Linked DNA regions of Homo sapiens. The protein of the gene in region 3 purifies or fractionates together with the protein of the main gene of each other region. This does not show direct contact. Each region holds a gene or a part of one and is shown on either strand. Other genes may lie near its edges. The genes, in order: SGPL1, CPOX, AIFM1, COX6B1, SERPINB3, MAP3K4 and FAM91A1.

Region 1 (4,210 bases), on a different chromosome or scaffold from region 3:
TTTGTTCACTATGTGTCCCTGGCCTGCATATTTGTGAATATGCAGTGAATATGAATGTGAATATGTAAGTGAATAAAAGAAAACAGCTCAGAAGCTGTGGCTTTGAGGATGGAAAAGAAGGGAACCATAGTTGATAAACTACCTAGCAGAAAGGACCTTAGTTCCTTTTAATATTTTGGGGTCAGACAGTGCAAGCTGTCGACAGCAGCTTAAGGAGATACATTAGAGTCTTCCTGGCAGTTCTTAGAATGCCTTGTGCTAGTGTTGAATGGGACCTCCAAATTCCTAGTGTGCTGCGTGTATGTCTGTTGAAGGAGCTCATCACTTGCACAAGGACCAGAATCACTTTTACTGCAGCATGGCCAGTTTTCTGGCCACTGTTCCTAGTTATACCTTTGATTCTTTTACACACACACTGTAGCTGCTGCCAAGGCAGGATCAAAGTCCAAATACTGCCCTCAAGGATGTGCTGACTTTAGCAATGCCAACCAAGTGAAGCAGCAGTGATGTCAATGTGGCAGAGAAAAGGGTTATGGGGAAATTGGGTGCAACTTTTTTTTTTTTTTTTTTGAGACAGAGTCTTGCTCTGTTGCCCAGGCTGAATGGAGTACAGTGGTGTGATCTTGGCTCACTGCAACCTCCACCTCCTGGGTTCAAGTGATTCTCATGCCTCAGCCTCCCAAGTAGCTGGGATTACAAATGCCTGCTACCATGCCTGGCTAATTTTTGTATTTTTAGTAGAGATGGGGTTTCACCATGTTGGCCAGGCTGGTCTCGAACTCCTGACCTGTAATGATCTGCCCACCTCGGCTTCCTGAAGAGCTGTGATAATAGGTGTAAGCCACCGCGACCGGCTGAGTGCATCTTGACCTTTAGAGAGAAGCTTCGCTTTTCAAATTTTTAAGAGGCTATTGTACATGCCAGAAAGTAGCTGATCAGTCAGAATATCACCATATATCTTTAGGAAAAATGTTAGTTTAGTTACTTGTGCGGTGCCTAGCATTGAGCAGTTGCTTGACTGTCATAATAATTCTGCTGTCTCTACTGTACTCTTGCATCTGGATAACTTTGTCTTTCTTACCTTTGGAGATTCAAGACAAGTTGAACAAGACCAAGGATGATATTAGCAAGAACATGTCATTCCTGAAAGTGGACAAAGAGTATGTGAAAGCTTTACCCTCCCAGGGTCTGAGCTCATCTGCTGTTTTGGAGAAACTTAAGGAGTACAGCTCTATGGGTATGATGCTTGGCATATACATGCTCTCTACTTCCTTAAAGAGACAGGTTTTGTCATTGTTTAATGTTCACATAGGTTAAGAATAACTCATCATTGGTTAATACATGTTTAGGAGGGCCTACTCTCTGTTTCACAGGTTGAATTTCCTATTTTTAAAATTATGTTTAGATTCATCCTTCATCCATAAAGCAAGCAAATCTCAGAGACAGTGGAACTTGGCTTTTATTTCCTTTTGTAAGCATGAATAAAACAAATATATTTGTGTTTAAGAAGAGAGAATATAAGATATGTAATACAAATGAAATACAGATCCATGTAAAAATGTGAAATCTGCATAAAGGCACAAAAGAAAATAAGTCACTATAATTCCACTATCAAAGATAAACAGATGGTGTCTATCTTTATGCATGTAGCTATAGGTAGAGCTGTCTATATAGTTTACATCTATCTATATATGTATATCTGTCTGTTTCTGAGAATGCTAATAGTGTTTGTCTGTGTGTATACACATGTATGCATGAGCACATATGGGATGGATAAATAGACCAAATAGCTTGGTGCTTAAGAGCGTAACCCTGGAACCAGCCTGGATTCATACCTTGGTTTGCCACTTAAAGTATGCCTTTGGCGAGTTACTTCTGTATGTCACAGTTCCTGTATCTCTACAATGGGGATAGTAATAGTAGTACAGTACTTACCTGAAAAGATGATTATGGGGATTAAATGAGATCATACATGTATAAATGTTTTATAGTGCCTGGCATATAGTAAGGATTCAGTAAATGTTAAACATTATTGCTATTATTAACTCAAACAGATTTATGTTTGTTACTGATTAAGATCATATTACAAGTACTTTTTAAAAAGAAGCTTTTTAGTTTGATATATTTACAGAAAAGTAGCAAAGATGATAGAGATTTCCCTATACCCAGCTTCTCCTGATGTTAACATCCTCTATAACCATGGTACGTTTATCAAAACTAAAAAATTAACATTGGTACAGTGCTATTAACTACACTACAAATTCTATTTCTAGTTCATCAGGGTTTTTTTTTGTTTTGCTATGTTTTGTTTTAAACTAATGTTCTTTTTTCTATTCTAGGAGCCAACCAGGAGCCATGTTGCATTTTGACAAATACCCTTATTTTTTATTTTTTGAGACAGAGTCTCACTGTGTTGCCCAGGCTGGAATGCAGTGGTGTGATCTCAGCTCACTGCAACTTCCACCTTCCAGGCTTAAGCAATTCTCGTGCCTCAGCCTCCCAAGTAGCTGAGATTACAGGCGTGCGGCACCATACCCAGCTAATTTTTTGTGTTTTTAGTAGAGATAAGATTTCACCATGTTGCCCAGGTTGGTCTCGAACTCCTGAACTCAGGTGATCTGCCCACCTTGGCCTCCCAAAGTGCTAGGATTACAGGTGTGAGCCACTGTGCTCGGCCTTGACAAATACCCTTACAATTTCTAAGTGACATGTGTTGAGGTCTTGACATTGAATAGTACAAAATTTGATATAGTCTAGGATGTAGATGAATAAAGCAGTGGTTAGCACTCTAAAACCTGGTGTTAAAGATTTCCATGATTATGAGACCTGGTTGCCGCCATCATATTGCCTTCTCTTTAATGTTTAAGTCACTGTCCATTGCTGTATTCTCTAGCATCAGTAAAAGAACAGGAAATGAAACCAGTTATCTTATTTTTGAAAGGCTGGTGACCACTGGTCTGAAGCTGTGTATAGTACAGAGCAGTGTCCTCTAAGGAAAGAGTGAAAGTCAAACGGGCAGCAAGCCAGAGCTTGGCAGATTGCTGTAAGAATGAGTTTGTCTGTATATTTACCACTTAGTTTTCTGTTCTCAAGAGCTGAAGATCTTTGCTTTGGAGAGCCCTTGGCTCCATGCAGTTTTTAGTTGGTGTGTTTCCGTAATAGCTTTCTCACTACCCACTTTCAATAGGGCACAGCTGCATTGTAGCACAAGGACCTGAGACACCCATATCAACAAATTTGTGGGTAAAATGAAGAATGTCTCGGGGAGAGAGGAAAGTGGAAAGTCAGATCTTATATTCTACTCAGGAACTTTACTTTTCTTTCCACACTGGGATAAAGGAGGTTTATCCCAATGTTGACTGTGTTCCTGATCTTGAATATGCTACAGCGTGTGCTGCTGGAAGCAGGTAACTAGTTTTATGTGGGTTTCCAGGCTTGGCTTAAGGGAGCCGGCGTCTGAGACCGGGGTGCTCATGGTTTATACCTCATTGTGGTTTGTTTGCTGGTTTCATCTCTGATGATAGTGTGCTGAAATTTCACACTTTTCATTTTGCTTTCTTCTGCCAACTCTGCTCATAATAGTTCTCAAAATTCCTAGGACTGGATAGGAAAGGAGAGAAGAAGGAAGCTATTGCAGAAAAAGGCCACTCCAAAGCCATATAGAGAACAAAAAATAAGTATAGACAAAGGCAAATGTTCCTGCTGTTAGAAGGCAGTTGAGGATGAGGACAACATTATTATCAGATTGCCTTTATTGTAGCTAAATGCTATTAATATCTTTTTCACATTGCTGATAATAATGATTTTTCATCTTTATTTTATTGTGCTAACTCTATTGAACTTTTTTCTTGATTTGCTATAAGAATGCTGTTGGGTTTCCACTCAACATTTTTTTCTTTTGTATCCAGAGGAGTTTCTTCCTGTTTCTTCTTTATCAGAACCTGTCTTCCCAGAGATTCTTGCTTACTGACCAGTGACCTTACCTTTCTCTGCAGACGCCTTCTGGCAAGAGGGGAGAGCCTCTGGAACAGTGTACAGTGGGGAGGAGAAGCTCACTGAGCTCCTTGTGAAGGTGAGTGTCCAGTTCTTGAGGGAAGCCTGTGAGGTCTGTGCCAGTTTACATGACCTCCTTTTTTTCCCTTACTTTTGTAATTAGAAAAATTACTTAAGGAAAGCTTATTGGTACAATAAAACCATAAAAGTTTCTCTT
Region 2 (3,043 bases), on a different chromosome or scaffold from region 3:
ATTTTGGGGCCCCTGTGATGAGGCACTATCTTGGCTACCCGGTGGCTGTAACATGGACCTGCCAAAAAGAACCTCATAGTTTAGTGGGGAAGACATACCCAAGAGGACAATTTAGAACTCTGTGCAAAGTAAAGTATTCTAGTTTTGCACAAGATTTCGAAGGCAAAACTTGGCAGATTTTGTCAATACTAATTAGGTGAATCCTTTAAAACTTCATAGACAGGAGTAATGGTTTGTTTTGCGGTTTTGTTTTGTTTTTTATACATCGTTTGATGGCAGATCATTCTGAAAGTCGTTGTTGTGTATCATTGCATGTCTGGTGTCATGAGATAGGCAGAACTGTGGGGTAGTAGATTAATTTTCTATGGTATGGTGTGTGACTGTTCTTCAAAGACAGCTTCTTTCTGCCTCCCTTATCTCTGGTCCTTAAGATGGCAATAAACTCTGGGGCCTAAGATAACTCCAGTTCTTCTCTGGGGCTATCAACACTGTCTTTGGTTTCTAATACTGCAGTCATGACCAGTTTTCTGTATCCTTTTCACTTACTGTTACCCACTTTGCCTCGTCTTCACCCTGTCCAAACACCGGTCTCCCTTTCAGCAGTCAGTCTCATTCCCTTTTGACTTTACAGTCTCTTATTTGGCAATCTCATCCAGTTTCTTGCCCACAGTTACTGCTATCCTCCCCCAGACCTTGAACATCAGTCTTACAGTTATCCTTTTCATAGGAAAACAGAAATTAAAGACTTTTAACTTACTTGTTCGTTGTATTCTGGGAAAGGGAAACAGGATAAAATTTAGGCATTAGTTAAATTGAAGGGATTGGTTAAAGTCCCTAACTTATAGGCACCCCAGAGAGGACAGATGTATGGAAAGGATCAGAAAAGATTAAATAATATTATTTAAAAACAAATATGAAAATGCTGCAACTCAACACTACTTTTATTATGATTGCTGTTAATCTGCAGAGAGACTGAATTATATGACTGCTTATTAATGCAATTAACTACTTTAAGAAAGAAGAATATATAGAATATCAGATCTATACCAGGAATAGGAGATGGAAATTTTTTATTAAAAAAGAAAAATCAGATCTAAGTGCAACTTGGTGGGAGGTAGAGAGGCCAATGTAGAGAAAGGGGCATCCTTCACGCAATAAAGGAAAGGATCCAACAGAAAATTCATTAAGGAATCTTTACAAGGGTCTCTGCGATAGGTCTTCAAATACATCAATATAAACTAGAGAACCATACCCATCCCCTAGAGAGATGTTTCAGAAAGATAATATCAGGTGAAAAAGGTAGCCAAAAGATGAAATTATTTTCCATGGTCTTAGAAAAGGATTCAGAAGATTCACTTAAATTATTTTTTGAAACAGACATAAGAAGGTATTAAATAGTTTTTTGTACGTAAAAGTCAATGATAAATGGTGAGAGTTAGAAAGGGAGCATAGATAAAATTCTTTACACTTTTGCAGGGCTTTTGACAAGTTCCACATACAAAAGGTGCTTTTAAAAAATTAAAGTATTGTGGGCCGGGCGTGGTGGCTCACGCCTGTAATCCTAGCACTTTGGGAGGCCGAGGCGGGCAGATCACGAGGTCAGGAGATCAAGACCATCCTGGCTAACACTATGAGACCTCGTCTCTACTAAAAATACAAAAAATTAGCCAGTCATGGTGGCGGGTGCCTATAGTCCCAGCTACTCGGGAGACTGAGGCAGGAAAATGGGTGAACCCCGGAGGCGGAGCTTGCAGTGAGCTGAGATTGCGCCACTGCACTCCAGCCTGGGCAACAGAGTAAGATTCCATCTCAAAAAAAAAAAAGAAAAGAAAAAAAAATTATTGTGGGAATCTAGAGGATATTTTGCTATAGATGGGCATCAAGACAGTAACCAATAGGTAAATAAGAATATGTGAGTGAAGTTTAGACCAAGGGAGTAATTTCTGAATAAGATAAGAAATGATCTGAAAGGGGCACTGTTTATTGAACTTTTCAGATTATGAATCAGTCTAAATTCTTTTGAGTAGTAGAAATTATCCTTTTGAAATGGGAGAGGGAGACCCGTTTACATCCTATGTTAAAGGCAGATGCAGGGTTTTAAACTGGAAGGAGTCCAGATCTGACTAGGGGAGTTAACATATTGAACCAAGTTTTAGTTGATGCTAAGGGTATTTAAAAAAAAAATGAAAACACTGCAACTCAACACTACCTTTTATTATGATTGCTATTAATCTGCAGAGAGACTGAATTATATGACTGCTTATTAATGCAATTAACTACTTTAGGAAAGAGGAATATATAGAATATCATAGTCCATTATTAATAGATTATTGTTAGCTGTAGTTGGCCTTTCAGGTCAGAAGTTTTACACCATCTTAGTAGTAGTAGTTGTGGGTTACAGGCAGTGAAATGAAATCTTTGAGTCCAAAACATTCCAGATTATGAGGAAGGCCAGAAAGAGCTGGGTTATCCTGAGAAGGGATGCATTTCTTTTTCTTAATTGTTGTTCTGCTTTAAACTTCTCAGCTTTGTGTCAATTCTGTTTACTTATGGGAAAACATAACCTTGTATTGTGACTGCTCTATGTTGGGGCAGAATCTATATTCTATTGTTTGGTGGGTAGAATACCCTTTTATTTCTGCCTGTCCAGATGGAGAGCTCTCAATGGGCTGTAGGCTGGTGTCCTCTGTGCCAGTTCCAGCTGATGGGAACTGGGGGGAAGAACCCACCCCTTTTTAAGTATTTGTTATGGGTTAGTCTTAAGATTTTATTGAGCTGGCCCTTAATGTTATTTGATGTATTTATGGCAGGTATGTAGAATTTAATCTGCTGTATGATCGGGGCACAAAGTTTGGCCTCTTCACTCCAGGATCCAGAATTGAAAGTATCTTGATGTCTTTACCTCTAACTGCCCGGTAAGGAGATAACTCATTTTAGTAGTTATCCCTACACTCCCAATTCCCAAACACCCACAAAATATGAAAGTTAACACTGCAGATGTTGTGCCTAGGTCTTTGTTAGTTTTGACTTTGCTGATTTTATA
Region 3 (4,210 bases):
GGGATCCTAGGTGATGAGACTGCACAACTGTAGGTAAAGATAAGGCCAAGAGAGAAACAAAAGGAAACAGAGTACTAAGTATTAATGAAGAAACATTCAATACAAAGGCAGAGAAGCAGTTTTGGTTACCCTGTGCTAAAAAAGGAAAAAGAAAAAAATGCTGCTCCAGGATTGCAGAATGTGTATTTCATCAAACCACATTATCAGACAGCTCTCGCCTATTTCTTACTCTGATTTGACTCACAATAGGCAAGAACTATCTACTTTTCTTGTCCGTTTGGGAGTCACATCAGGGGATGAGGATATAGGTAGCTTCAAATAATTTTCATGTCCCTTTCTTTAAGCTAGCAACCAAGGAACAAAGATAAATTCATTGTCTTACCAATGTAGAAAAAAACCCCTAAACTTGTAATGGCTTAAGTAAAACAAACAGCTTCCTTCAATCAAGGGTGTTACTAGGTGTTATCTAAGTTGGTTCACTCAACCTTACAGGATCCAACTTTAGACTGATCGGCTTAGTCACAGTAAACCCTGCCAAGTTAGGAAAAAAACACCCACAAAATAATTCCTCTGTGACCTGCTAAGCTGATCGGAGTTCATTTAAGGAGATATAATGGTGCTAATACTACATAGCAATTAAACACCATATTTCTCACCTCAAACAAACTCCATTCTAAAATCAGTGATACTAGCCCTGTTTCTGTAATTTAGTCTTTGGGTAAGATTCAGGGATAGCTTTCCTTTTAGGAACACTTAATATTTTTGATTGAAGGCTGTTGTTTTTTTAATGTGAACCTCAAGCTGAGGAAATAAAATGTCTGACAAATAGGTCAAAATCAAATATTGTGCTAAGGAGCTGCAATGGATTTTGACTTTATTCACAGGTTAGTGTGTGACATCCAAGAAAACAGGTACAATTTTGTGGGTTACTCGAATCTAGGAAAACATAGTGGCTTTCAAGTAAAGAAGAAAAAGACAAGTGAAAAGAGCAGAAATCAATCAACATGAGATTAAATTTCAGTCATTCCAGAATTGGCTCCCATAAGATATTAGGCAGCAGGCACTTAAGAGAAGGCTTTTTGAAAATTTTTCCAAAAGGAGAAAGGGGAATTAGTTGCAAAAGTTTTAAAGCAGAATACTATCGAGTCTATTAATGGGAGCTGTTTGGCAGCTTCTTTATACACGCTGCTTTTCTACTTACATAGGCACCAGCTCCTACTGTTGATAAGCCCACAATAAGGACTAACACAGAATTATCGATTTTGCCCCCTGATGCACCAGAGCTAGCCATTTGTCTTGTCATCTGGAGTTCTAGAGGAACATGCCATCGCTGGAACAAGTTGCCTAAGAAACATAATTTATTAAGACACACACATACAAAAATAAAATAGTTAATACATATTTATGATTAAATGTCAATGCACTGTACAAGACTTATTGCCCACAGATATTCACCGTTAAATGATCAAGAAAAATATCATCAAAACTGCATATATAAATACTACAGACAGCTGAATGAACGCTCTTAAGTTGCTGAAGTTTTTAAGAGTAAAATTTAATGCTGTCCAGTGAGAAAATTTTCAGCTTCCAGAAAAGATCATGAAAAACACGAACAGTTCATCAAATACCTCTTCCTTCATGTCTTTCCCATAAATTAAGTAAACACAGAGAGATGACTGAATAGGTAGATATACAAAGTTAACCATGGGCTACCTGGGACATTATAACAACCATTTAAGGAGTAATCTAGATGGTTCCAATCTTGCACAAAATAAAACGCAACACTCTAACCAGGACACAGTTCAATCTTGCATGAAAGGTAATGTGTCCTGGAATACAGAAATGTTAAAGCTCAGAAGAAAATCAGAAAAAAAAATTTTAATGAGTTTCTCTCCCCCAAAGAACTAAAAAATTTTGGACTATGAAATATTTTTTATAATGACAAAATGTGAAGTGTCCAGCAACTCCTTGACTCTTACTCCTCCAAAATAATACAAAGGTTATTTTGACGTAAAACTATGCAGAGCTATGTAATGATGTGATGATCATAACAGCACCTGTACATAGAAATATAAGAGTTCTGTAGATTTCTTTTTCTAGGGAGACGCTGACATTTTCAGATAAAGGAAGGTCTCAGTCTCTGATTATTCTGTGATTACTCCTCGTGTTTGTTGACTATCAACCTAGAGCAGCAAATTTTTTCTGCAAAGAACCAGATGGTAAATATTTTCAGCTTTCTGGGCCATTTGGTGTCTGCTGCAACTACTCAATTCCACTGATGCTGCATAAAAGCAGCCAAAGACAATACATAAATGAATGGATGTGGCCATGTTCCAATAAAACTTTATGGACACTGAAGTTTAAATTTTATATAATTTTCATGTGTCACGAAATTCTTTTTTTTTTCAGCCGTTTAAAAAATGTAGGTCAGGCGTGGTGGCTCACGCCTGTAATCCCAGCACTTTGGGAGGCCTAGGTGGGCAGATCACGAGGTCAAGAGATCGAGACCATCCTGGCCAACATGGTGAAACCCCGTTAAAAATTAGCTGGGCAGGTGTGGTGGGGCATGCTTGTAGTCCCAGCTACTCGGGAGGCTGAGGCAGGAGAATCGCTTGAACCCGGGAGGCGGAGGTTGCAGTGAGCCGAGATCGCACCACTGCACTCCAGCCTGGCAACAGAGTGAGACTCCGTCTCAAAAAAAAAAAAAAAGAAAAGAAAAAAGACCAGGTGCAGTGGCTCACGCCTGTAATCCCAGCACTTTGGAAGGCCGAGGAGGGTGAATCACCTGAGGTTGGGAGTTAGAGACCAGCCTGACCAACATGGAGAAACCCTGTTTCTACTAAAAATACAAAAAATTAGCCGGGCGTGGTGGCTTATGCCTATAATCCCAGCTACTCGGGAGGCTGAGGCAGGAGAATAGCTTGAACCCAGGAGGCGGAGGTTGCAGTGAGCCGAGATTGTGCCATCGCACTCCAGACTGGGCAACGAGAGCGAAACTCCATTTCAAAGAAAAAAAAAGAGAAAAAGAAAAAAGAAAAAAAATGCAAAACCCACTCATGGCTCCTGGGGCATACAAAAGCAGGTGACTGACTGGCTTTGGCCTGTGGCTGTAGTTGGCAGACCCCGATCTAGAGCAGTGGTTTTCAAACTTGAGAGTGTATCCCAATGCCCTGAAGGTTTTATAAAACAAAGCTGGCCAGGCCCCAGGCCCAGAGGTTCTGATTCAATAGATCTGGGATGGGGCTCAAGAATGTGCATTTCTAACAAGTTCCCAGGGGATGCTGCTGTTGCTGCTGCTGCTGTTAGGGTGGGGACCACACATTGAGAACCATCTGTCTAGAGCAGGTATATCCTATCTTTTGGCTTCCCCGAGCCACATGGGAAGAAGAAGAATTGTCCTGGGCCACATATAAAATACACTAACACTAACCATAGCTGATGAGCTAAAAAAAAAAAAAAAAAAAAAAAAAAAATCGCAAAAAAATCTCATAATGTTTTAAGAAAGTTTACAAATTTGTGTTGGGCTGCAGGTTGGACAAGCTTAGTCTAGAGGCTGATACTTATGTCCCTGTCCTGTCTAGGCTTTAAAAGACAAACAGAATGGACACTGGTAGTAGCATCCCATGTATACTTGCAGAGATTAGAGAAGGAATTTCCCCCTTGCTTTCATAACGTTAGGCCACAGACGGGTAAAAACAAGCCCAATGTGGATCTGTGGTCTCTCATCTGAAATCCTGGGGACCATGTATAATTTGGAACTTTGAATTATCTGGTCTTAAGTATATGGGGCATATACCACATAGTGACACCTAGCAAGGTAAAGGGCAGCAATTCATAGTTAAACATATTAATATGACCAATCACGCTAAGTGATATTTTAAAAAGATTATAAAGTAGCCTCTCTCCAGTTCAGGTCAGGTTTTACTGGCAAATGAGTTATGAAAACTTGATAGTCTTAAATTTTGGTCATTCTACAATTTCAATTTCTGAATTACAGATAAGAGACTTTAGATCTACACTCTTAGAAAAGGAAATGTATTTTTCTTTACTGTTCTTCTTACCTGCTTTTAGAACTCTTCATCACCACATGAAATAAAATGGTTGAGATTTGGAAATAATGACAAATCATGAAAATAAAAACGTGAGCGGGGCAGAAACTTATCTCAATCTGGGCAAGCTTTTGATTTTCAGAAGCTTACAAAAATAATGA
Region 4 (4,210 bases), on a different chromosome or scaffold from region 3:
CTAGAAACTGCTGGCAGAACTACCTGGGTAAGCAGGACCTTTCCCTGGCCACATACCTCGAGTCACTCACCGCTTGCCTCTTCCTAGGGGACCCATCCACCCCAGCCTCCTCCCTTTTATTCTGAACATCCTTACTCTGGAAGGCCCATGCCTCTCATCACCTGCTGTTCAGGTCCAGGCTAGGGTTACAAACTTTAGTTCCTGCAATGATTTTTTTTTTAATTTAAATTTTTTATTATTATTATGGTTTGGTTTTGTTTTTTTCCAGAGATGGGGTCTCACTTTGTCACCTAGGCTGGAGTGCAGTGGTGCAATCATAGCTCACTGCAGCCTCAACCTCCTGGGCTCAAGAGGTCCCCCTACCTCAGCCTCTCGAGTAGCTGGGACCACAGGCCCACACTACTGTACTTGGCTAATTTTTTTGTAGAGAAGAGGTCTCAGTTTGTTGCCCAGGCTGGTCTCAAACTCTTGGCTTCATGCGCTCTTCCTGCCTCAGCTTCTCAAAGTGTTGGGATTATAGGTGTGAGCCACCGTGCCTGGCCCCTACAATGATTTTTTTTTAAGCTGTATGTGTGTGCGTACTGTAACATGTACAGAAAGCACATAACAAACATGTACAGCTAAATGAATAATTCTAAAGTGAACCCCTTGTGCAACCATAACCTGGAGAGAAAAGCAGACATTGCCCACACTCTCATCTCCCTGCCTTCTTTTTTTTTTTTTTGAGATGGAGTTTTGCTCTTGTTGCCCAGGCTGGAGTGCAATGGTGCAATCTTGGCTCACTGCAACCTCCGCCTCCCAGGTTCAAGCAATTCTCCTGCCTCAGTCCCCCAAGTAGCTGGGATTACAGGCACCTGCCACCACACCCAGCTAATTTTTTGTATTTTTAGTAGAGACGGGGTTTCTCCATGTTGGTCAGGCTGGTCTCAAACTCCTGACCTCAGGTGATCCACCCGCCTCGGCCTCCCAAAATGCTGGGATTACAGGCATGAGCCACCGCGCCTGGCCTCCCCACCTTCTTTATGTCCTGTCTGGAACACAGCACCCCGCTCTCCCCAGTAGAGAAGTGACGCCACTAACTGGGGGTTATCACATCTTTGTTTTTGGTTTTGGTTTTTGTTTTTGAGACTGAGTTTTTTGTTTTCGTTGCCCAGGCTGGAGTGCAATGTCACGATCTCGGCTCACTGCAACCTCTTCTGCCTGCTGGGTTCAAGCAATTCTCCTGTCTCAGCCTCACTAGTAGCTGGGATTACAGGCACCCGCCACCATGCCCAGCTAATTTTTTGTATTTTTTTTTTTTTTTAGTAAAGACAAGGTTTCACCATGTTGATCAGGCTGATCTTGAACTCCTGACCTCAGGTGATCCACCCACCTCAGCCTCCCAAAGTGCTGGAATTACAGGCGTGAGCCACTGTGCCCGGCCTCACATCTTTGTTTTTTACCACCATGTTTATTATTTTATTTTATTTTATATATGTTATGTTGTTATGTTATTGATGGAGTCTGTTTCTTGTTGCCCAAGTTGGAGTGCAATGGCACGATCTCAGCTCATTGCAACCTCTGCCTCCCGGGTTCAAGTGATTCTCCTGCCTCAGCCTCCTGAGTAGCTGGGAATACAGGCGCTCGCCACCACACCCAGCTAATTTTTTTTTTTTTTTTTTTTTGAGACGGAGTCTCGCTTTGTCGCCCAGGTTGGAGTGCAGTGGTGCAATCTCGACTCACTGCAACCTCCGCCTCCCAGCTTCAAGCACTTCTCTGCCTCAGCCTGCCGAGTAGCTGGGATTACAGTCGCCTGCCACCATGCCTGGCTAATTTTTTTTTTTTGTATTTTTAGTAGAGACAGGGTTTTACCATCTTGGCCAGGCTGGTCTTAAACTCCTGACCTCGTGATCCACCCCCCTCAGCCTCCCAAAGTGCTGAGATTACAGGTGTAAGCCACCATGCCTGGCCAATTTTATTTATTTATTTGAGACAGAGTCTCGCTCTGTTGCCCAGGCTGGAGTGCAGTGGTACAACCTTGGCTCACTGCAACCTCCGCCTCCCGGGTTTAAGCAATTCTCCTGCCTCAGCTTCCTGAGTAGCTGGGACTACAGGCGCGTGCCACCATGCCCGGCTAATTTTTTGTGTTTTTAGTAGAGACAGGATTTCACCATGTTGGCCAGGCTGGTCTCGATCTCCTGACCTCATGATCTGCCTGCCTCGGCCTCCCAAAGTGCTGAGATTACAGGCGTGAGCCACCGTGCCTGGCCAATTTTTTGTATTTTTTTTTTTTTTTTGAGATGGAGTCTCGCTCTGTCGCCCAGGCTGGAGTGCAGTGGCGTGATCTCGGCTCCCTGCAAGCTCCGCCTCCTGGGTTCACACCATTCTCCTGCCTCAGCCTCCCGAGTAGCTGGGACTACAGGTGCCCGCCACCGCGCCCAGCTAATTTTTTGTATTTTTAGTAGAGATGGGGTTTCACCGTGGTCTCTATCTCCTGACCTCGTGATCTGCCTGCCTCGGCCTCCCAAAGTGCTGGGATTACAGGCATGAGCCACTAGGTCCAGCCACTTTTTTGTATTTTTAATAGAGACAGGGCTTCACCATGTTGTCCAGGCTGGTCTCGAACTCCTACCCTCAAGTGATCCACCTGCCTTAGCTTCCCAAAGTGCTGGGATTACAGGCCTGAGCCACCATGCCCGGCTACCACCGTGTTTAGATTCACCTCTTTGTGAACTTTATACATACTGTGTGTATTCTTTTGTGTTTGGATTTTTTCATTCAGTACCTTCTCAGATCCATACATGCTGTGGCATATAGCTTGCTCATTTTCATTGCTGTCCAGTTTTCTACAATTTATTCTATGCCTGTACACTTGTGTGATTTCCATTTTGGAGTTCTTACAAATGGTGTGGCTGTAAACATCTTTATAAATGTAATTTTGCTGGGTGCAGTGGCTCACGCCTGTAATCCTAGCACTTTGGGAGGCCGAGGTGGGCAGATCAAGACCAGCCTGGCCAACATGGCGAAACCCTGTCTCTACTAAAAATACAAAAATTAGCTGGGCATGGTGGCAGGTGCCTGTAATCCCAGCTACTTGAGAGGCTGAGGCAGGAGAATCACTTGAACCCAGGAGGAGGTAGAGGTTGCAGTGAGCTGAGATCGCACCACTGCACTCCAGCCTGAGTGACAGATTGAGACCCTACCTCAAAAAAAAAAAAAAATGTGTTCCAACTCTTGATCTGGGCTGACTTGAACCCCTTTCTTCACAGACTTCCACCGCTGTCAGAAGGCAATGACCGCTAAAGGAGGCGATATCTCTGTGTGCGAATGGTACCAGCGTGTGTACCAGTCCCTCTGCCCCACATCCTGGGTATGTGCCTCCTGCCAGGGCCCTTGGGATGCTGGGGTGGGGTCTTAGCAGAGGGGAGTGTGGTGGCTTGGTGGGAGCTCATCTGTGAGGGGCAGAGGGAGGACAGGGCACCACACTGTCCCAGGACTCAGTGCCTTTCCTCCCGCCTAGAATTACCTCCCTGTCTCCTTCTGCTGATGCCTCTCAACCAGTCAGGGCTCTCAGCTGAGGCGACCAGGGTGCTTTGCTAGATGTAGCTCACTCATGCACTCTCCAAATACACACTCAGCACTGGGCTCCCATCCCTGTGTAGCTCACAATTCTGTGCAGTCCTGTCCTTTTTTATTAGGAACATTTTTTTTTCTTTTTTTTTTTCTTTTTTTTTTTTTAGACAAGGGTCTTGCTGTGTTGCCAGGCTGGAAAGGCTGGAGTGCAGTGGCGCGATCTTGCCTCACTGCAACCTCCGCCTCCTGGGTTCAAGCGATTCCCCTGCCTCAGCCTTCCAAGTAGCTGGGACTACAGGTGTGCACCACCATGCCCAGCTAGTTTTTTGTATTTTAATAGAAACGGGGTTTCACCATGTTAGCCAGGATAGTCTCAATCTCCTGACTTCATGGTCCACCTGCCTCGGCCTCCCAGAGTGCTGGGATTACAGGCGTGAACCACCGTGCCCGGCCCTATTATGAACATTTTCAAAGCAGAGATAATAATTCATTGACCTCAAATACATCCATCACCCAAAGTGAATAGTTATCAGGATTTATCCACGGTTTCTTCATCTACCCCTTTTCGTTTTCTTCTTTCCTTTGCTGAAGTATTCTAAAGCAAGTCCCAGACACGTCATTTCACCCCTGCCTACTTCAGTGTGGACTTCTAAATAAT
Region 5 (4,907 bases), on a different chromosome or scaffold from region 3:
CAATTCCAGATTCTTCTTTCTTCTAACTTTATCCTTCCTCCCTAGGATCTTATCTTTGCTTCTAGCTACAATTACCATGTTTATCCCAATAACTCTAAAGTATTTATGTTGAATATCACAAATTTAGAGCTTCAGATCATATTCTGTTTCTGAGATTTAGATCAATATCTTCAAGTACCTGCCAGGCAAATTCATTTGAATATTAAAAGTACCTCAATTCATCAAGTACAAATTTAAACCCATGGTCTTTTTTTTCTCTCAAAAACAACATTTTCTTCCATCCTTCCAGTCAGATAGCTCAGAAACTTAGATGTCTTTTTTTAACTATTACTTCCTAAATAATTCTGCCAGGCTGTTTCTTTCTCTTCATTTCCACCCCCAATACTCTAATGATTTCCTGATTTATATATGGTAACCACACTGTTCTTTCCTCTCATCCATTGATATCAGAGTAACCAGAGATGTATTTTCAAGATGAAGATATGATAATTTTATGCCCCTCTTTGACAAACAACCATCAAAGCCTGTAATGAGTTTCTTATCCCTTTAGCATAAAATAGGAAGTTCCTAATGTGGTTTACAAGGCTCCTCCTGTTCTGGGATATGCCTTCTACTCCAGGCTCATCATGAACTACTCTGTTTTTAATTTTCCTTTGTTTGTGATTAATATATCTCTAAATTGTCTTTCCTGTGTGTAACTGGACACTTTCCCTTTCCAGAGAGAAAATGTAAAGCAAAAATGATTTTATGTCACTATTTTATTGATGATGTGTTTTATAGAATCACAAAATTTAGAAACATAAGAAGGATTTAGGTATCACCTAAATTCAAAGAAATGTGTGTTTCTAGGTTGCTAAATTCAAAGAAAAAGTATGATTTGGTTTGGTTCATTTAAAACAGGTCACAAACAGAATTATATTTCAAATTTAGAAGATACGGTATTAAGTGATTCATCTTATTTTGGACATTTTTCCTCAAGGAGAATTTTTCTGGAAGAAAAAGTACATTTATATGTGGGCTTATTAAGAGAAAGAGAGAAAGGCATGCTATTTTAATCATTAAATTCTTGATGATGACGATCATCATCAAGATGAGAAAGAAAAGAAATATGAGCCAAGAGAATCTGTTGTTGCCAGCAATCAGTTTACCAGAACATCTGCAGGTGAACATTTTCCAAATGGAGTGACAGACTAATTGCATCTACGGGGATGAGAATCTGCCATAGAAGAGGATGCTGTTGGTCTTATTTTGCCTTATGAAGAATAGGAAAGGGTGATTACAATGGAACTCTTCATTAGTTGAAGTAGGTGATGATCCGAATCCTACTACAGCGGTGGCAGCTGCAGCTTCTGCTCCCTCCTCTGTAACCTCCACAAAGGCCTTGTGTAGGACTCCAGATAGCACGAGACCGCGGCTCCCGGTCATGCCTGAGAGGTCTGCATCCCCATTGAAGATATCCACCATTCCCATGGTTCTCAACGTGTCCTTGAGGTCATAGCTCTCTTCCACTTTGAACCGAGGTAAGTGTAAATCGACACGTGTCTCTCTCATATTCTGCAAACTTGTCCATTCCATCAATTTCTCAGCAGTGAGTTTCTCTTCAAGCTATACAAATGGAAAAAAGAAACTGATATGACTAACTGTTGATTTCTAATACACCTTAACAATGAATTGACTATGTGGAGAATCCTTATTTTGGCAACAAATGTGAAATACAGAAGGTTCACTTTATTAGATATTATTATTCTAATAGGCAAAATATGAGTCCTGGATATATAAATACATTGGGTTATATGTGTATGTGTATAAACAGAATCAAGTTTTTATGTATATGTAATGTGTACATATGTATGTATACAACTGTATGATACACATGTAAAAATATGATTACATTATTTTGTACACAATGAACTATATATATCACTATTTCTTGTGCCAACAGCCTACTACATGTGTCAATTTTTAATAGGCTCATCTTATTTTTCTGTATACATTATTTAGTACACATTGCAATTATTAAATTGCAATTCCCCAAATTCCTAAATTTCTATTCCCTTTTTTACTTGGTGTATTCGTAAACTTTCCTCACATTGCTATATATTTCTCCCAGTCAAGTTTAAATTGCTGCATAATAATATCATTAAATTGATATCCAATGCATGTAACTCTAATAAATTAATCATTAACTATGCCTTCAGTTTGTGTCAGGCCCTATGCTTAAATCTTTGTAATATGAAGGTGAGTCATCATTCCTCATTTAGAATTTTTCATTATTTTGAGGCAACTCGGTCACCAGCTTTTACCTTGTTTAAACTTGGTATCTTTGGAAAAATGTCAGGCAGTAGAAGGAAGAGTTGTAGATGCAAGTTCTTACCTTCTGGAGACCATCGATTTCATTTGGCAGCAACACAATCATGCTTAGATCTTTGCCTTTGTATGGTATTTCCAGGACCTTGGCCTGTACATCCTCCAGCGAGGCAAAATGAAAAGATGTGTATTGCCTCATCATCTGTATGGACTTGTATGTATTCTACAATAAATCAATGTGTCCAACAAATACCAAGTGAGACACAAGGCAAAAAGATAATATTATTGAGATATCAACACATCCTTCTTTTAAGAAATAATCCAAGAATGTAATGAGTTAGAGACAATAGCTTCTTCAGGAATTCCTAACTAAATAAAGTTATAAGACTAAAACAACAAAAAAACAGACATGAACAATTTTATTTTTTACTTGTCATGGTACATTCCATCAGAAATGTTTAAATTTATTAACATATTACATTATATAAATAAAATATAGACAATACCTTGTTTGGCCAAAATTTTTCCTCTTTAGTATCTTCTTTATTAAATTTCTTCTCCCACTGCCCTTTGAAATAGATTGCGTTCACAAGAACCAATGTGGTATTGCTGCCAATATTACCTTCAGGAATTAGGTTTTTAATTTTTTCTGCAAGGGAAAGAATAAAAGAGTCTTTTACACAAGCTACAAATGGCTTGTCTGGAAGATGCTTTGCAAATGTTCGTGACTGATCGTTAATTATTGACCCAAATCCCTACTTGAGACTCACTGACTTTGATCTTTGAATTGTTAGACTCACTGACCAGTGGTTCACCAGATGCAGCTTTCTTCAAGGCTCCAGTCGTATAAAGTTGCCCTTAATGGAGACATCACTTCTTGTGATAGAGAAGGAGTTCACGTTCTCTGTGTATGAATGAGTCCATTCATCTGATTTGGAATACTGATAAACTGATTTTGTCTACTCTTTCAACATGTGTCTTTCCTTTCTCCCTCCCTCCTCTTCCTACTTTTTTTTTTTTTTTTTTAACTACGGGGTCCCCATTCAGAGGAAGTAGGCCCTGACTGCTTTTTAGGACAAGTGACATGAGCTCTGTAATATGAAACGCATGTCCTGTGCTGTCAGACACTACTTCCGGGGGTATCTTCCTATTCACTCTCATGTTGAGTTGCTGTAAGTTTGGCCTGTAATGAGAGGTGGGAGGTAGGATAGATGTCTATAGAATGGAGAATTTGTTAAGCTCTTGCCCTTGATGGGGAAGAGAGCTGTGATAATCCCTGCAGAACTTGTGGCTAGAGATGTGATCCAGGCAGCTCTAGTTCAGATGGCAAAAGGGTGATTTACCAGAGAGCTGCTTGTTTCCCAATTAGTAAAGGGGAAGGGAGATGCTTTCTAATGTTTCCTTTTAAATATTCATCATAAAATATTGGTTCTGATTTAAAGTAAAGGACATGATCTCAAATTGGACCTGAGTGGAGACAAGGGATCCACAAAGCTATTGTCATCCAGGAACATGAGCAAAGAATCCTCCGGCTATGTTTTCTTCTAATTGGCTTCCTGTGATTTCCTCCTTGGCTCCCCTAGGCTCTCTTCATAATCATTTGGAAAAACTCTTCATCTGGAGTGCCCTCTTCTTCCCTCCCTGCAAAGCCATCTCAATTCCCACCCATGGTCCCCCATGCAGTTTCAGGCATAGGGCTCACTCGCATAGATTTCTCAAAGGTGTTTCTATAATGGGTGGCTCTCCTACCATTCGTTTGACTTTCCACCCAGGAGTTAATCTTCTTTCGACTTTCTTCTGGAGCATTTGCAAAATCAACAGATTCCACACTGGTCTGGTAAAATTTCTTGATGGCATCTAAATATTCCTTTGAGATATGAAGGAAGAAAGTAGGAAGTAAGAGTAATTTATGTAACTATATATTACCAAATTTAGTTATTTATAATTATAGTAAGCTGAATCCAGACCCTGAATAGATGCAGTATCTCCTGTCCATGCATATTTTTATACTGGTGCCATGTAGGCAATGCAAAAGCGGAGTGCGGGCTGGCGCAAGAAAGAGGTCACCGAAGGTCAATATCATCTGGCAAAAGGCAGAAGCAGAAGAGGCTGTGGTTTGCAAACTGCAGAGCAGGCTTCCCTGAAGGAGATTCATTGCTTCTCAGACCTCTTTCCAGTAATTTCAACCATGATGTTTCTGATCTTTGTTTTTATCTTTCATCCTGTGCATTCAGTATTTCCTGGTACTTCCTCAACTATTCTCAGGAACTCACCCAAGCCTGCCCATTCCAATAATATCCCATTAGTCATACATTTCCCACCAAGATGTATCGTATGTGACTGAGTCAGTGCCAGTTTATCGATGGTATCTTATTACTTATTACTCTTACTCACTCTATTACCCAACCTCCTCTTTTATTACAAGATTATCCCTAAATCCACACTTCAGTGATGTATTGTTAGGGTCTGGGACACTCCAGTGGGGGAGAGTTGTGGAAACGGAGCTATTGCACTCTGAGTAAATGCTCTCCACCTGGATCGGTCAGGCTCATCTGCCTTGCTTTCTTCCATTTGGCCACTCAGAGACACAGACATCAGGA
Region 6 (4,210 bases), on a different chromosome or scaffold from region 3:
TCCTTGAGTCGCCCACCTGGTACACGAAAAAGTTCAGTAATCACATAACAACCAAGAAAACGCTGTAGCAGTTTTAGACTGTACAATACTGAAAAGTAACATAATTATAATTACTATTTAGGACAAGACACTTTTTTTTGCTTGGGTTCAGTAAGTTTACAGCGTGACCTTTTGGAAAGGAGAATAATTTTTTAAAATTTAATTTTGTTTTGAAACCAATGGGAAGCATGGAAGAGGATTTTAGACATGATAGGTGCCATCTGTAATTCAACAATTATTTATTTGTAATTCAACAAGTATTTATGAGTTTTGTAACACAAAGTTCCTACTTTGAATCTCAGATGCAGCAAATGTGTTTTCTCTAACTTGGAGAAATTGCTTAATGACTTTAAGAAAGTGCCCCATGCTATCCCTCCATTACAAATTACAGAACACTCAGCTATTTCTCACACAGTCATGACACTTTAATAACTATGTTTACTTTAGTGGAGCTAGTATTGAGCCTCACAGACGATTCACCCATTTCACCCCTGCAAATTCCAAAATGGTTTCTTAATGAATAAATTTCATGAGGGAGGAAAATACATTAGTCATCAGGAAGACTTGTCAAAGGAGAACATGAGTTCCCTTAAAGGTAACTCAAATTTGGAACAAATTTAAAAAAAAATTTTTTCCCAAGAGTTACGCAGTTTTCTCTACATATTTTTCCATTAAAAAAAACCTGATCACCGAAGAGTTTAGAGTGTTCCCTTCTGTGTCGTCTGCTCAAAAAGAATCCCACAGAACATATATGAACAAATACCACCAAGCCCACATGACACATTTCAGAAACATCCTACTTGGTCATTACCTGGGTCTTGTACCTCTACCACTCTCACATTTAGTCAGGACATAATTCATCCACTTCCGGGCAAAGCTTATATATTTGTCTCCTATCTTCTGTCTAAACTCCCCAGACATCAAACGAACAACTTCTTTATGATACTGTAAGAAGATTTCATGTATATCAACATTAAGGAAATGATCATTAAATAATATCACACACTATAATGCCATGTCTAAAATGTTTTCTAAAAACAAAAAGTGAAATCCAATTAAAATTTCTATATTTTGAATAGTATGAAGAATTATGGAAAGTACAGTGTTTCAAAATGCAGTTTCATAAATGTTTTACTCCTGAGTTTAAATTAAGAATGTGCTTTTATGACATAAAACATCTCTTTAAAGTTTTAAAATGTAAGTAGATGGCTGTTAGCACAAAATAAAAGTTGGACAATTACCTAACAGTTTAAAAGTAAACTAACATCTCTGATATACAGCAGTGATATAAGATGATATTCTTGATTAAGCTATGATTACAATATCAGATTTACTGTAAAAGGTTCCAAAAACTTTCTGTAAGTTATCAAGCAATTACTAAATTGTACCGTGTTTCCTCTTATTTTGAACCTACCTCAAATCCAAAATTGTACCCCTGAATCATTGCTTCTCGGTAGTACTGTTGCAAGGTGACAGATTCAGATTCATCAACCTCAGCATCAAATTCTGATGTGAACATGTGGTCCACGCGGTCAATGGCATTGCTTATCCTGTTGCATAGCTCCAATGCATCATTCTGAAGAGTCCAAACCATGATTAATGCAAAATGAAGCAAATCATACAATACTTACCACATTTTAAAGGAAGATTTCGTTCATCATCACACAGACATTAACCACTACAAACAATTCAGCCACTTGGTAAAGGAATTACCAAATATAGAAGAAATTATGTCATTTTATTTGGCATTCTTAAATAGAAGAGAAAAAAATGCATTTAAAATGATACAGTCTAGTTATAATCTGCTCTTGGAATAGATGCTTTTATCTTCAATATTTTTATACATCAACCACCTGTTGTTTTCTCCTCCTGGACGGTTGCTCAACCATAAGTACGGGTGCAATTCCACAGAGTGAAAAAGTCCATGTACTTCTAGATGACCTCCTCCGATCGTGCTGTCCTCATTTCCCTGCTACTCCCTAGTCCAGGGGTTCTCTTCTGGGGCAGATTTCTCCCCCTCCCCTCAGCGTCTGGAGACGTTGTCCAGAGAAGTTTTTGATGGTCAAAATTTGGAGGAAAAAGTGGAAGTACTGGGATATGGTGAGTAGAGGCCAGGGATGCTGCTAAACATCCTACAATGCGCAGGACGGCCCTCCACGACCAAGAGTTACGGGCCCAAACGTCCACATCCAAGAGGCTGAGAAGCCCTGCCCTGGCTCTAAACATCCTACAATGCGCAGGGCGGCCCTCCACGACCAAGAATTACGGGCCCAAACGTCCACATCCAAGAGGCTGAGAAGCCCTGCCCTGGCTCTAAACATCCTACAATGCGCAGGACGGCCCTCCATGACCAAGAGTTACGGGCCCAAACGTCCACATCCAAGAGGCTGAGAAGCCCTGCCCTGGCTCTAAACATCCTACAATGCGCAGGACAGCCCTCCACGACCAAGAGTTACGGGCCCAAACGTCCACATCCAAGAGGCTGAGAAGCCCTGCCCTAGCTCTAAACATCCTACAATGCGCAGGACGGCCCTCCACGACCAAGAGTTACGGGCCCAAACGTCCACATCCAAGAGGCTGAGAAGCCCTGCCCTGGCTCGAGCTTTTGTCACCTCTGTCAGCAACATCACAATAGCTCCAAATCGGTCTCTCTCTCTACCCACCCTTACACACGAGTGCACACAAGGTCTCCATCAGGCAATCCCCTTACTATGGTTACAAAATATTCTTCCAGCAATCCATAGAGAGAGATAACCTAAATATTTAGTTAATAAATGTTTATAGATAAATCAGACAAATCAGACCAACAGAAGAAAAACAAGTGTTTACGAAATGACTTGTAACTTCAGAGAATGTTTCTTCTTCAAGAAGTTAAGCCTTAATGTGAGTGAGAAGACATAACTGATGGCCTGGAAAAGTGTGGATGAGATCAAGACTGATACATGGGATACAAAATAGAAAGTGTCAAAAACAGGAAATAATGGAAAAAGACAGCCAGGCTGGGGCTTGTCATAAACTTTGAAAGGCCTTTGTACTTCTCTGCAACTTTTTTCTATTATATTTAATTTGGTTGAATTATTTATTAAACAAAACAATAAATAAATCTTCTATTACACACTGCTGATATGGAGTACCTCTAGTAAATACTGGGGATTGTGAAAGGAGAATGAAATTTACACTGGGAATGAAGAGACCTAAATTATTAAATTTTCAACTTTGCCACTAACCAGTCATGTAGCCATTATGAATAAGTCACATAAAGTTCAATTCTCTATCCTTTCCAATTATAAAGTTCTACAGCTTCAGGAAGAATCTCAGAATATGTAGTTTAGACATAAGAAAATATGTATTGGGAAGAGAGGTGAGTGGGCAGGCAATTCAGGAGCTCAAGTTCCTTGGATGATATTACCTTACACACATTACCACACACTGACTTTCATCAAAAAGGAAAAATCTCAGCTAATGTAGAGGACAGTGTAATACCTTCAGCTGCTGCAAAGCTTTGGCGATGACCGGCTGACTGGATGTCTGCTCCTGGCACAGAGTCATAAGTCCCTCAATGGACTGCTGGAAAGCTTTTCTCTGAATTGTGAGATGCGCAGACTGCATGACAACTAGTAAAAGATTATCCACCTGGGAGGAAAATCAAGCACAGGACATAAAAACCAACCCAGTTACTAGTTGTTATTCTAGTTCAACACCAGTCCAAAAACAATGCCAATCTCAGGGATACCAGGCCAACAACCATCTAATCAGAAAGTCATTTTTAAGCAAAGCTTCTCCTACACAGCAACACGCTTCAGTGGGCATTGACAGCTGGGATATTCAGCACCACGGAGAAGAACCCTTTGGGACTGCAGGCATGACATCTTTGAGATATCCTAGAACTTCAAGTAGTTCAGTACTGCCAGTGCAGAGTGTGTGTGAGTGTGTGTGTGTATGTGTGCATGTGTGTGTGTATTGGAGCAGCATATGAAGAAGGAAAATGTAGGAATAAGACAGAAATAAGATGAGGGGCCTTATATAAAACATTAAGAAATCAAGACTTTATTACTTTTGTTCTTAAGAGATGAAGAATCTTTGCAGTATTTTAAGTAGATCTGTGATGCAATCAGATGTATTATAATGATCATTCTAGAAGCACAAAAACAAACACAGAATTGGAGAGACA
Region 7 (4,210 bases), on a different chromosome or scaffold from region 3:
GTTAGCTTTAGTTTCAGTAAGAATGACAACTTTATATATTTCTTTTTTGGAATCAATTATGATGTATTAAAGTATAAAAGTAGTTCTAAGAGTTGTTTAATAAAGTATGTTTAAGCTGTTGGCGTTGTGTTATTAGAAACTGTTCATTAATGTGATGTCCGTTCTGTTTGTAGAGTTCACTCGTGTCAATATGGGTGTTCATAAAGCATTGCAGATACTAAGGAACAGAGTGGACTTACAGCATCTCTGTGGATATGTCACCATGTTGAATGCTTCCAGCCAACTTGCAGATAGAAAACTCAGTGATGCTTCTGATGAGAGAGGTTAGCCAATAGTTGGATTCTTTGGATTAAGATAATTGGTTTTGAGTTTGACACAGTGTTAATATATGAAAAGCAGCAGACCTTTGTGGGGATGCTGAATTATTGAATACTCAATATTCTTTCACTGAAGCACGAGGAAATATTTTGGAACATCATTTGGACAAATGTCAGTTGTTCAAATGAAGAAAATAGGATTGGGGTACAGAATGGTTTGGGACTTTTGGGTGCTCTACTGTCATATCTGTGTTTATTAGGCTTTATTAGGTTAGCTTTATAGGGTGATGGTTTCAAAACTCAAGTCTCTTTATACAAGTGTTTCCAAAATTGACTTAATAGTTTTTCCCTTTCAACTTTTTCTGTCAAAAGGTACCATTGTCTTAATTATCTAGGTCTAAAATCTTACCTTTGTCTCATTCTTTCCTTTTTCCACTATGTTCAGTTAGTTTCCAAGTTCTGTGAATTAGGCTTTAGATAAGTCTCTCATGTCCATTTCTTCCCCTTTCTCTTCATTTTAAATTCTCTGTGACTGCTCTTCTTGTCTGGGTCTTGAACTTTAAACCTTAAACATGTGCTGTTGCAACCATTCCCTGCTTAGCCTTTCTGGCCTCTCCTTTCTATCTCCAGTCTGTCCTACATATTGACAATAGCTAATTTTCCTTAGATATCACTTACTTTTTTTTTTTTTAATTTGAAAATCCATTTTCAAATCACCTTCTCATGCTTACTAGTTGTTTCTGCTCTGGCATAATATTGGCATATATGTGGTTTGGGTTGCCGTGGTGCCAGTTCTTATCCATTGACTCTGGGAGATCTTTCATTATCTCCCATTGATTGACAGTATTCCATGAGCCTCTTAGTTTGAAATTCTGAGGAAATGTGATTGATTACTTGCCATCCAGTAGATTGGGTTGGCTCCCATTGAGATAGGTACTTACTCCTATCTCATTTGTCTTTGGCCAAATAGTTGACTGCCAAATATTGCAGGAGCATTTTCTAGAGAAGAGGGCTATGACTTAAGCAGTCATTTCAAAGCGTATCTACTACAGCTCTCCTTTTTTATGTCATTCATTCCACAAACATTTATGGAATACCTGCTTAGGTGCTGGAGCAATTTAATAAGACCAGGCCAGGCATGGCCAGGTACAGGCTCATGCCTGTAATTCCAGTCCTCTGGGAGGCTAAAGCAGGAGTATTGCTTGAGGCTAGCAGTTTGAGACCAGTCCGGGCAATAGAGCAAGACCCTGTCTCTACAAAAAAAAAAAAAAAAAAAAAAGAAACAAAAAAGACAATGTTGTTCCAAGGATGAAAACCCTAGAGAGGAGACGAGTGAGTCAGTATACAGTGTGGTGTTATTGACTATGATGGGGTCTGCATAAAGCGCTAACACAGCACAGAGAAGGCCTCTTAGAGAAGGTGAAGTTTGAGTTTTGAAAATTGAAGAGTTAGGTAGACAAAAGATAATGTGTTTTTGGAGGGTGGCAGCCTTTCAGGCAGAGGGGAATTAGAAAACAGTAGTTCATTGTGGCCAAAAGAAAGGATTTGTTGGACAGTAGTAGAAGATGAGAGTAGAGAAGTAGATAAGGTCTAAGGGATCTTGGAGGATCTTCTGTGCTGAAAGATAATGAGTCAGAAAAGAACTTTGAAGAGTAATAACATAATCAGACTATATATTTCCACAGGGGTGCAATTGGCTTCAGTAACTTGGGTCCTCCTTTTTGAATTTTGTTTCTTTAGGTCAGGGTTTCTCAATCTCAGCACTATGTGCAGTTTGAGCTGGCTAATTCTTTTCTGTGGAGGATTGTCCTGTGTATGGTCAGATGTTTAGCATTCATAGATACGAATAGCATCCCTGTCTTCATTCGTGTCCCTTGGGGATCAAAATTGCTCCCCTGTTTAAAACCACTTATTTAAGCCAAGGATTATGCATTTTCTTTCTGTCATCATTACTATTGTCTGAAGTCTTTTCCATGTTAGGACTGATTTATTGGCAGCTTCTGCTAACTGCTAGAATCCTAATATTGTGTATGCCCTTTAATTATAAGGAGAACCTGATTTGGCTTCTGGCTCAGATGTAAATGGGAGTACAGAGTCATTTGAAATGGTCATTGAGGAAGCAACTATAGATTCAGCAACAAAGCAAACCTCTGGTATGGTGCTAAAACTTTTTCCAATTTTATTAGACTAATTTCTGAGGTTTAACTTTTATGTTAAGGCATTTGCATGCCATTTGTCTATTCTTATTATTCATACGACTTTTAAATAAGAGTTTTCTAGGAAGCCTTTTTACATACTTAGAAAAATAATTCAAGTATTATAAAATTATGACTTGAAAATAATCTTATTCCTGTGGTAAATGTTTTGATTCATTCTCTCATCTTACAGATATCTTGCAATACTCTTTTTTGGGCAAATGACTACTTTGAACATTGGATGAAAGCTATGTACCTTCTCAGACACATGTTTATACCCTAAAAATGCCTATCCTGTTTAGAGATTAACTGACCCCCTTCAATTTCTTCCTCCCCTGCCAAGCCCACTGGTGGATATCAGTGGGGCAGGAGGAATCTATGAACTTCAGGTTAAGAAACCCTTGTCAGTTATATATAATATATACATAAGTAGATATATATGATAAAAAAATAAGTTTATGTATCCTTTCTTAGGTGCCACAACAGAAGCAGATTGGGTTCCTCTCGAGCTGTGCTTTGGAATTCCACTGTTCAGTTCCGAATTAAACCGGAAAGTTTGTAGGAAAATTGCTGCACATGGCCTTTGCAGAAAAGAGAGGTGAGGGTTTATATTCGCTGTCATATTTTCATATCAATTTTTAAGCTGTCAGCAAATAGTTACCATATCTTACTTTTATTCCACACATGAGCACAGTAATTGTTCTGTATATATTTGTTGATTGAATAGAGATCGCTAGTTTAAGGGTTTTGCTGTATTTTTCAAAATTAAATTTCACTAGATCAGAAATTAGTCACAGGCAAACATTTTGGGCACATGTTTTGATTATATTTATTTAGTAATCTAGGTGAGGTGAGGGTGTGGTGAAATGGGCATGCTGATATGGAGTATGAACCTAGATTTTAAAAAATGTATGTCTACAGAAAATTTCTCTGCATTTCTCTCACTCCTAACATACACACACTCATGTTATATTCTGTTAATAGTGATTGGTTTTTGTGGTGGAATTATGATGACTTTGCAAAATTTTCTTCACTTTCTACATTTTCTAAAATGGATATGTATTACTCCTTAAAGATGACATGTAGGTTTTATCTTATATACCAGCTCTGATCCATTGTGAGTAGCTGCTAAGAGGCAATGTTGTAAAGGTTCTGAGACAAACTGGGTTAGCAGGAAAGAGTATAATTGAATCTAATTGTCATGATAGGTGGCTTGGAGAGGTGAAATCCACAAGTCAAGATCTTCTTATTTTAGAAAATGAAGTTGGACAATAATTCATTTAAATGGTGTAATGTAGCTTTTATCAGAAAATGAAGAGTACTCAGTTGACAATTTCAACATCTATTCTCTAAAAACAAAGTAATATACATGAGTAAAAAATAGAAATACTATAGAACTTTAAAGATTACCACTATAATTTTTACTGACTTACATATTTGAAAAATATTTAGGTAGGTTGGTGTGTGTTTAATCTGTTATCAGGTTGTCTTTTGCAATTACTTTGGTTGTTTAAAGGTTGTGTCATAGTTGTCATTCCTCAGAGTGCCTAAATCTTCATTTGAAAAGTTTTCTTTCATTTAACATTTATGTTTATAGTAGTTGAATTTTTTTAAAACAATAACTTTGATTTTAGTTACACGATGTATTTTATTTCAAAATGGACTTTTAATGCATGACTACTCCCTATTATTAAAACA

Evidence for each region.
Region 1: the proteins of AIFM1 (region 3) and SGPL1 purify together in Homo sapiens (affinity purification with mass spectrometry; 2 studies listed by BioGRID and IntAct, with this or other methods). This does not show direct contact.
Region 2: the proteins of AIFM1 (region 3) and CPOX fractionate together in Homo sapiens (co-fractionation; one large-scale study listed by BioGRID). This does not show direct contact.
Region 4: the proteins of AIFM1 (region 3) and COX6B1 purify together in Homo sapiens (affinity purification with mass spectrometry; 2 studies listed by BioGRID and IntAct, with this or other methods). This does not show direct contact.
Region 5: the proteins of AIFM1 (region 3) and SERPINB3 purify together in Homo sapiens (affinity purification with mass spectrometry; one large-scale study listed by BioGRID and IntAct). This does not show direct contact.
Region 6: the proteins of AIFM1 (region 3) and MAP3K4 purify together in Homo sapiens (affinity purification with western blotting; one study listed by BioGRID). This does not show direct contact.
Region 7: the proteins of AIFM1 (region 3) and FAM91A1 purify together in Homo sapiens (co-immunoprecipitation; 2 studies listed by BioGRID and IntAct, with this or other methods). This does not show direct contact.

Annotation. Positions count from the first base shown.
Region 1 is NC_000010.11:70,853,619-70,857,828, forward strand, and holds part of SGPL1 (sphingosine-1-phosphate lyase 1), read left to right. Parts: intron 1-1,089; coding exon 1,090-1,237; intron 1,238-2,169; coding exon of another isoform or gene 2,170-2,202; intron 2,203-3,995; coding exon 3,996-4,072; intron 4,073-4,210. UniProt on the Homo sapiens protein: Cleaves phosphorylated sphingoid bases (PSBs), such as sphingosine-1-phosphate, into fatty aldehydes and phosphoethanolamine. Elevates stress-induced ceramide production and apoptosis.
Region 2 is NC_000003.12:98,581,279-98,584,321, reverse strand, and holds part of CPOX (oxygen-dependent coproporphyrinogen-III oxidase, mitochondrial precursor), read left to right. Parts: intron 1-2,810; coding exon 2,811-2,915; intron 2,916-3,043. UniProt on the Homo sapiens protein: Catalyzes the aerobic oxidative decarboxylation of propionate groups of rings A and B of coproporphyrinogen-III to yield the vinyl groups in protoporphyrinogen-IX and participates to the sixth step in the heme biosynthetic pathway.
Region 3 is NC_000023.11:130,155,260-130,159,469, forward strand, and holds part of AIFM1 (apoptosis-inducing factor 1, mitochondrial isoform AIF precursor), read right to left. Parts: intron 1,345-4,210; coding exon 1,202-1,344; intron 28-1,201; coding exon of another isoform or gene 1-27. UniProt on the Homo sapiens protein: Functions both as NADH oxidoreductase and as regulator of apoptosis.
Region 4 is NC_000019.10:35,651,323-35,655,532, forward strand, and holds part of COX6B1 (cytochrome c oxidase subunit 6B1), read left to right. Parts: coding exon 1-27; intron 28-3,248; coding exon 3,249-3,349; intron 3,350-4,210. UniProt on the Homo sapiens protein: Component of the cytochrome c oxidase, the last enzyme in the mitochondrial electron transport chain which drives oxidative phosphorylation.
Region 5 is NC_000018.10:63,654,457-63,659,363, forward strand, and holds the end of SERPINB3 (serpin B3), read right to left. Parts: intron 4,175-4,907; coding exon 4,057-4,174; intron 2,957-4,056; coding exon 2,814-2,956; intron 2,531-2,813; coding exon 2,375-2,530; intron 1,606-2,374; coding exon 1,201-1,605; 3' UTR 741-1,200; downstream 1-740. UniProt on the Homo sapiens protein: May act as a papain-like cysteine protease inhibitor to modulate the host immune response against tumor cells. Also functions as an inhibitor of UV-induced apoptosis via suppression of the activity of c-Jun NH(2)-terminal kinase (JNK1).
Region 6 is NC_000006.12:161,088,784-161,092,993, reverse strand, and holds part of MAP3K4 (mitogen-activated protein kinase kinase kinase 4), read right to left. Parts: intron 3,673-4,210; coding exon 3,523-3,672; intron 1,616-3,522; coding exon 1,454-1,615; intron 985-1,453; coding exon 851-984; intron 17-850; coding exon 1-16. UniProt on the Homo sapiens protein: Component of a protein kinase signal transduction cascade. Activates the CSBP2, P38 and JNK MAPK pathways, but not the ERK pathway. Specifically phosphorylates and activates MAP2K4 and MAP2K6.
Region 7 is NC_000008.11:123,805,907-123,810,116, forward strand, and holds part of FAM91A1 (protein FAM91A1), read left to right. Parts: intron 1-173; coding exon 174-323; intron 324-2,365; coding exon 2,366-2,470; intron 2,471-2,986; coding exon 2,987-3,110; intron 3,111-4,210. UniProt on the Homo sapiens protein: As component of the WDR11 complex acts together with TBC1D23 to facilitate the golgin-mediated capture of vesicles generated using AP-1.